Linked DNA regions of Homo sapiens: all the other regions are linked to region 3. Evidence: fine-mapped expression QTL. A gene starts in region 3. Each other region holds a variant in brackets. All regions are shown on one strand. Distances are between the middles of the regions. Region 1 overlaps RARG (retinoic acid receptor gamma). Region 2 has its middle 27 kb from the start of ZNF740. Region 3 holds the start of RARG (retinoic acid receptor gamma).

Region 1 (2,732 bases), 21 kb before region 3:
TCAGCTCCCTCACCAGGTCAGCTGGTCATTTCCCTACCACCTCCTAAAGGGAGCCACATCTCATGAGTTTCCATCACTTTATTTTGCAAAAATAGAAAACTCAGCAATATGCGATACAGCGGGGTAGAGGGGAGATGTAAACAGAGGGGAGGGGACAGCACCCTGACCCCCCAAGAGAACACAGGGAGCCAATGGGAATCTTATTTGGCAGCTAAATACAAACTGGGGATTGGAGGAAGAAAGGAGGGGTCACAGGGGCCCTGGGCTCCCCCACCCAAGACCCCTGGAGGAAGGGGTCAATTCCACGGTGTAAACAAAAGCTAATAAATAAATAGAGGCTTCCTCTGGGTCAGGGCGGGATCAGCTAAGCAGCATCCCCCCTCCCTGGGCCAAGCTGCTCTGGGGAGTAAAGGGTGGAAGGCACTAGGGAGAGAGGGATCCCCTGGCCCCTCTGTAGTGTAGGAGGGTCCCTGCCCCAATGGCTGAGATGGAGGGCAGGAGGAGCCCAAGGCACATGACAGGGCTGGGGGAGGGACTTATAACGGAGGGCACAGGGTGAACTCTGCACCCGAGCCAAGAGGTGCAGAATGGACCTGCATCTATCTGTCCCTTTCACCCTCTGTTCCTGCCCCAGAAATGCAGGGCCCAGCCTGCCCCCACCTTGACCTGGCACAAGGACGGGGCACAGAGGCTAGCACACACCCTGCAGGTGCATCACACAGCATTAGGCACCAAGGGTAGGAGCAAGAAGGTGGGCTCAGCCCTTCTCCTTTGTCCCCTTTTTGGTCTCTAGTGTTCCTGTTTGCTCTCAGAGAGCCAAGCACCTGGCAGAGGAAGGGGCTGTGGAATGGCAGGGTCTTCCTCTTGCCCTGGGAAGTCTAGGACCCATGGGGCAGTGCTGAGATTTTAGAGTCCAAACCCAGGCTCATCCCTTTGCCCTCTCTCCTGGTGGGAGCAGGGCAGGCCCCCGGGACTGGCGAGGGAGCCGGTTAGATCAGGAAGGGGATGAACACAGAGGCACCCCTAGAAACTTTGGCAAAAACAAGGAGCTCATTGGAAGGGGTGGGGAGAGGGCAGAGCAGGTCCTCCCCCAGTCACTGGCGGTCTGGGAGATGGTCAGTCTGCTGCCTGAAGCCCCAACCCCCACAGCGGGGAGGTCAGGGGCCCTGGTCAGGCTGGGGACTTCAGGCCCCCTTTGCCCTGGCCCCCAGGAACCTCATCCTCGCTAGAGGCATTGGGGTGGGGACCAGGCTGC[G/A]AGGAGTCATCCTCAAACATTTCAGGGTTCTCCAGCATCTCTCGGATTAAGGGAGGCATCGGGCCTGGAATCTCCATCTTCAGAGTAATGGCCCTTTCAGCTCCTACAATGGAGAGAGAAAGAGAGAGGCTCAGGAGGACAGAGGCACATGGCCCTTAAGGCCATCTCCCTAACCTTTCTCAACTGCCCCTGACTCCCCTAGGGGGCGCCCAGCACAGGCCCACCACCTCTCCGTCCCCAGCTCATCCTCTTCTCACTAGGCTTCCTGGGTGCCACTCCTCTGCCTGGAACCTCTACCTGGCCTTCTCTACCAGGCTTGCTGCCCATTCATCCCATTCTTTCAGGCTGTCTCTTCAGCGAGCGCAATGCACACAACTTCCAACCCCACTCCCCAAGTACCCCACTCTCGAATGTCCAGAGCTTGTCACTTGTTCCTAGTCCTGTTCTCTTAATAACATTTATTACCACAGCTAATATTTATCAAACACTATGTTCCAGACATCCTTCTAAGCCTGGACTGTCCAATAGAACTTTGCAATGATAGGAATACAGTAGTCATTGGCCACATGTGGCAATCTGAAATGTGACTACTGCAACTGCAGAATGGAATTTTTAATTCAGCACAATTCTAAGTACACTGTATATGTTACAGGTTTTTTTTGTTGTGTTGTTGTTGTTGTTGTTGTTTTAGAGGCAGGGTCTTGCTGGGTTACCCAGGCTGGACTGCAGTGGCTATTCACAGGTACAATCATAGCTCACTGCAGCTTCCAACTTCTGGCCTCAACTGATCTTTCTGCCTCAGCCTCCTGAGTAGCTGGAACTACAGATGTGCACCATGGTGCCTGGCTTTACATTGTATATTAACTAATTTAGTCCTCAAGACAGCGTTACAAGGTACGTGAAGAATAGCCCAGTTTACAAACAAGATTAAAAAAGTAAAGCAATTTGCCCAAGACTTTGTCTCTAAATATATATATACACACACACACACACACACACACACACACACACACACACACATACTTGGAATTGTGCTGAATTAAAAATTCAATTCTGCAGTTGCAGTAGTCACATTTCAGATGCTTAATAGCCACATGTGGCTAATGACTATTGTATTCCCATCATTGCAGAAAGTTCTACTGGACAGTACTGGTTTAGAAGCAATTTGCCCAAAGTCTCCCACTACTATGTGGCAGAGCTAGGATTCCAGTGTAGATTGCCTGGTTCTCAACTACTCTGTTCTTGTCTCTGTGTGTCCTCCTGTCCGACCTGGGAGACCAACAGCCCTGGGAAGACAGAGAGGGGACACCCACTCATGACTCACCCTTAGTGCTGATGCCCCGGAGGTCGGTGATTTTCATTAGCATCCTTGGGAACATGTAGGGCTGGCTGGGCCGCCGGCGCCGGGCGTACAGCCTCAGGGCTTCCAGCAGTGGCTCCTGCAGCTTGTCCACTTTTTCGGGCTCCTCCAGGTCCA
Region 2 (2,757 bases), 79 kb before region 3:
TTATTATTTTTTTTATAGAAACAGGATCTTGCTGTGTTGTCCAGGCTTATTTTGAACTCCTGGAGTCAAGGGATACCTTGACCCACGTCAGCCTCTCAAAGCGTTGGGGTTGCAAGTGTGAGCCACCTTGCCTAGCCTGTACCATGATTTTTTTTTTTTTTTTTTTTTGAGACGGAGTCTCACTCTGTCGCCCAGGCTGGAGTGCAGTGGCATGATCTCAGCTCACTGCAACCTCCGCTTCCAGGGTTCAAGTGATTCTCCTGCCTCAGCCTCCCAAGTAGCTGGGATTACAGGCATGCACCACCACACCTGTCTAAACATGTACCATGATTATTTAAGAGAATATTCTTGTTGTTGAGAAATATGCATTATAGTATTAAGAGATAAAGGGTCATAATATATGCACTGACTCTCACATGATTCAGAAAAAAATGAGTATAATGCATTTAGAGAGAGAATGACAAAGCAAATTTGTCAAAATGTGAGAAATGGATAAATCTGGGTAAAGAATATATAGGAGGTCTCTGTAACTAAGAATAATGACAAGAATGCAACTTTTCTATAAGTTTGAAATTATTTCAGAATAAAAAGGTTTTGACTATAGTCCTCTGCTGTACCAGTTGAGTTATTGAAGGATGCTATAAAAAAGGTTTTTAAAAGGCACATAAACAGAAGAGAAACAGTCAAATGAGGACTAGGGTGTATAAGGACAGTTCCAAGTGGCCAGTTGAATTCTGACTTTAGCTTGTTCTCTTTTATCTACTTTTTTTTTTTTTAGACAGAGTTTCGCACTTGTTGCCCAGACTGGGGTGCAATGGCACGATCTCGGCTCACCACAACCTCCACCTCCCAGGTTCAAGCGATTCTCCTACCTTAGCCTCCCGAGTAGCTGGGATTTATCTACTTTCTTAAAAGGGCTCTTACTCTCAACCTCAGAGAGCTGCTATGACATCATAGGTACCCCATCCAGCTTCTGACCTTCCCAGGTCCCGGCCTTCCTCCCTGTGAAGGGCAACATCTTCCTTCCCCAGTCAAGGGGAGGCTGGTCCCTGGATCCTAGAGACTAGGATACTTTGATTCCTTTTGCTCTTACCGAAACCAAAACCAAAACCAAATGCCAACAAAAAACTATTCTAGAGTTTCTAAGGATCATGTCTGCGAGCCAGGATTCCTGATCCAGAGACAACGGCCCCAATGGGATGGAGCCCAAAGGTGTCATTGAGAGTAACTGGAATGAGATTGTTGACAGCTTTGATGACATGAACCTCTCAGAGTCCCTTCTCCGTGGCATCTACGCCTATGGTTTAGAGAAGCCGTCTGCCATCCAGCAGCGAGCCATTCTACCTTGTATCAAGGGTTATCACGTGATTGCTCAAGCCCAATCTGGGGCTGGGAAAATGGCCACATTTGCCATATTGATTCTGCAGCAGATTGAATTAGATCTAAAAGCCACCCAGGCCTTGCTCCTAGCACCCACTCAAGAATTGGCTCAGCAGATACAGAAGGTGGTCATGGCACTAGGAGACTACATGGGTGCCTCCTGTCATGCCTGTATCAGGGGCACCAACATG[C/T]GTGCTGAGGTGCAGAAACTGCAGACGAAGCTCCTCACATCATTGTGGGTACCCCTGGCCATGTGTTTGATATGCTTAACGGGAGATACCTGTCTCCCAAATACATCAAGATGTTTGTACTGGACGAAGCTGACGAAATGTTAAGCCGTGGATTCAAGGACCAGATCTATGACATATTCCAAAAGCTCAACAGCAACACCCAGGTAGTTTTGCTGTCAGCTGCGATGCCTTCTGATGTGCTTGAGGTGACCAAGAAGTTCATGAGGGACCTCATTCGGATTCTTGTCACGAAGGAAGTGTTGACCTTGGAGGGTATCCGCCAATTCTACATCAATTTGGAACGAGAGGAGTGGAAGCTGGACACACTATGTGACTTGTATGAAACCCTGACCATCACCCCAGGCAGTCATCTTCATCAACACCCGGAGGAAGGTGGACTGGCTCACCGAGAAGATGCATGCTCGAGATTTCACTGTCTTCACCATTCGTGGAGATATGGACCAAAACGAACAAGACGTGATCTTGAGGGAGTTTCGTTATGGCTCTAGCAGTTTTGATTACCACTGACCTGCTGGCCAGAGGCATTGATGTGCAACAGGTTTCTTTAGTCACCAACTATGACCTTCCCACCAACAGGGAAAACCATATCCATAGAATCGGTCGAGGTGGACGGTTTGGCCGTAAAGGTGTGGCTATTAACGTGGTGACAGAAGAAGACAAGAGGACTCTTCGAGACATCGAGATCTTCTACAACTCCTCCATTGAGGAAATGCCCCTCAATGTTGCTGACCTCATCTGAGGGGCTGTCCTGCCACCCAGCCCCAGCCAGGGCTCTATCTCGGGGGGCTGAGGAGCAGCAGGAGTGGGGAGGGAAGGGAGCCAAGGGATGGACATCTTGTCATTTTTTTCTTTGAATAAATGTCACTTTTTGAGGCAAAAACAAAACAAAACAAAACACTCTAACATTGCAACCCACTCAGGCGTTTCCAATGCCTTTATTTTCCTATTTGAGGGAAATATCATTTCCCCAGGCCAAGGGCAAGATGGGTGACTAAACCTGGAAATGGCCTCAACCTTCCTGCAAGTAGTAGATCCACAGCACATGGTTAATAATTTATGCTATTAAGGTTAGGCTACTAAGGCTATTAAGGTGTACGGTCCTAACGGACACACCTATGAATTAGAT
Region 3 (2,757 bases):
GACTTGAGGATTGGGATTCCAGCTGCCCAGGACCAGAGCCCTAAAGCGGGACAGTCATCTCAGTTTCTTGCCCTGAAGACCTCCTACTCAGGCTCCCCTGCCCCCACCACCACTAACAACCAAGCATCTTCTTACCCGCTGGCCGCCTGCAGAGACTGGCTTCTACATACTGGGTCAGGTTGAGGGAACTGGGCCGTAGCTGCTAAAGACAGAGAGGCAGCGTCAGTGGAACTCTGGGACCAGCACTCCTGGGTCCCTGTCCCGGTCTTCCTGCTCTTTCTTTGTTCCATTTGGGCTTCCCTCAAGAATACTCCAGAGGTGCCCCCCACCTTGGCTGGAGGGAGCCAAGGCTCGCACCTGGGCTGGGAACGTGTGGGAGGGAATCCAGCGCTTCAAGGAAAGTTCACAGATCCCTATCCTATGCACCAGTCCTTCGGAACTCCTGGACGCGGAGGGCCAGGCTCACTTGCCTCTGGACGTTTTCCTTGCCTTCTGATGTCCAAGCTGTCCCATTCCACTGGGGAGGGAGGAACTTGGACCAGCATGGAACATCAAATCTACCCCTCAGAGCCCGGGGGTAAGGGGGTGGTAGTCTTTCCCCGCGAGAGGAAACCCTGTCTTCTCTCACATTCCCAGCACAAAAATATAAGGAGGAATGCCCCCTGGCTGAAGACTTCCCCAAATGCTGTCCTCTGCTATGCACCAAAATGAAGGGCAGATGACCCAGCCCATCCTCAGCCTGTTAAAATCTTCCCCATTCCCTTCCCACAGCAGGACTGGCCTGGGTCGGGGCAAGAAGCCCCCCTCAAGCCCGGCGGCCAGCCTGGCCAGCCTCGGGAGGGCATTCGCCCGTGCAGCTCCTCCGCGCCCCCTCCCCCAGCCGCCTCGCCGGAGGACCCAGGCGACGGGGCGGGCGAGCCTGCTTCCCCGCCTGACTCACCTGGAGTGGGAGGGGGAAGGGAGGCGGCGGAGCCCCGAGGTCCCGGCGTCGGGCAGTCTCTTGGATGGAGCGTCGCAATGTCCGGGGCTCGCCGTACTGGGGGGCTCCTGGGGGGGCACGGCTCTAGGCTGGGACTGTCCCGGGGCCTCTCGGAGCCCGCCCGCCCACGTGACCGCCCCAAAATATCCGACACATTTTCTCCCAAACCGCACACTGACTCTGCAGGCGGGGACACGGAAAATATTTTCTTTCTTTTTCTCCCTCCCCACCCCCCCCCCAACCTCCCTCCCTGCCCAACTCCCTCCTCCCCCTCCCGCCCTCGCTCCTCCCTCCCCTGCCTGCCCCTGCCCGGCTCCCTCCTCTGTGCCCTGGGGCTGGGGGGCGGAGGGATGGGTGGGCGGGAGGGGGACTGGGCGGGGCGGCCCGGGACGCCTGGGTCTCTGCCCTTCCCATTTGCTAGGCTTCCGTGACTCCATCCTCTGGGAGGCCGGGCACGGCTGGCAGAGGAGGTCAGTGTCCTGGCCCCGTGATGCCAACCTTTTCTCTCTGGCACTTTTCTCCTTTCTGCCTTTTGGGGGGACTAGTTGAGTTGTCTGTGGCCAGGCTGTGACTCTTGCGAGGCCAGTCTCTGGCGCCTCCCCAGGGTAGGCAATGGGGCGGTACCCACTCCCTCCCAGTGCTGGATTGGCCGGGCAGGAGTATGCCAGATCTAGAATAGATGCTCCTGCCCTTACTCTTTGCTCAGCCTTCACCTGCAGATCCAAGTAGCCTCTCCCTTCCCCTAGCCCACCTCAGTCCTTTGGTCCCAGGAGCAAACTGGTTGACTAGTGGCTGTTGCTGGGGGTGCTGAGGCCAGGGCTCACAGACATCTTCCCTGTCATCTTGCCTGGAGTAAGCTCCAGGAGTTAGGGCGCCTGGGTCCCTGGCTGCCAGTTGTCCCCCACCTTTAGGCCTGGATTTGGAAGGGGAGAGGCTGGAGAGGAGGGCAGGAGGAACTGTGGCTGGGAGTGGGAGGAGCCTTGGGCTGGGTGTGAGAGAGAAAGCCCAGGCAGAGGGTGTGTGTCTGCCCTAGCCAGCACCGGCCTGCCTGCCTGCCTGCCTGGTAGATGTGCCATGAATGCTGTTGACTCCGGGTGTGTGTGTGTGTGCGTGTGTGTGTGTGTGTGTCTGTGCAAGCGCGTGCGCATGCCAGTGCCGAGAGTGAGTGTCTGTGTCTGATGGGGGCATTATCTGCTTCAACATAGACAGACTCTCAACCCTAGAGTGAGAGAACCCAGTGGTTTCACTCTGCATTCTACTGAGGACAGAGGGAGAGAAAAGAATGGGTCTGCAGTCCAAGCTCTGTGCACGGATCCCAAACACTCCCATGGGGACTGGAGTTGGGAGGGAGAAAGAGGAGAAGGGGAGAGTCTGAGCTAGGCTGATAGGCTGGACAGACATACCCAAAGTACCTTCCCCAGCAATGCTCGCAGGGTGACCAGGACCTGGGACACAGACTCCTGGGTCACGTCACATTTTCCATACTGGAATTACTTGGCTTTGTCCTTGCTCCCCCCTGGGGGCCAGGTGTCCTCCCTCCTGGGAAAGGCTGCTTTTGGTAGCCAAAGTCAGGTGAAGGAGATGGGGGAAAGAAGAGGCATGCTGTGGTTACCTCAGGGAATGGGAGATGGCAATGGGGGTGCAGACAAGCCCTCTCTTTCACTCCAGGGATAGGAAGAGCTAGGAATAGATACTCCAGGGTCCCGTCCCCAGGTGGCCTAGCTGCTGTTGACTTTGCTTGGTTACCCTGGGAGCAGCTCTCAGCAGTGTGGGAGGGG

Evidence for each region.
Region 1: its variant is fine-mapped to the expression of RARG in whole blood (TOPMed, PIP above 0.99).
Region 2: its variant is fine-mapped to the expression of RARG in whole blood (TOPMed, PIP 0.91).

What each region holds. Positions count from the first base shown.
Region 1 is chr12:53,210,506-53,213,237 of GRCh38, forward strand. It overlaps RARG (retinoic acid receptor gamma), which reads right to left. Exons shown (of 10, transcript NM_000966.6): 9 at 2,580-2,732; 10 at 64-1,358. The coding sequence ends at 1,171. Among named protein-coding and RNA genes, the nearest start is that of ITGB7, 4.6 kb to the left of the region's middle. The variant G/A (reference allele first, on the strand shown) is at 1,256.
Region 2 is chr12:53,152,121-53,154,877 of GRCh38, forward strand. It overlaps the pseudogene EIF4A1P4. Among named protein-coding and RNA genes, the nearest start is that of ZNF740, 27 kb to the right of the region's middle. The variant C/T (reference allele first, on the strand shown) is at 1,572.
Region 3 is chr12:53,231,034-53,233,790 of GRCh38, forward strand. It overlaps RARG (retinoic acid receptor gamma), which reads right to left and starts at 1,176. Exons shown (of 10, transcript NM_000966.6): 1 at 941-1,176; 2 at 136-202. RefSeq lists silencers at 862-991, 1,312-1,361.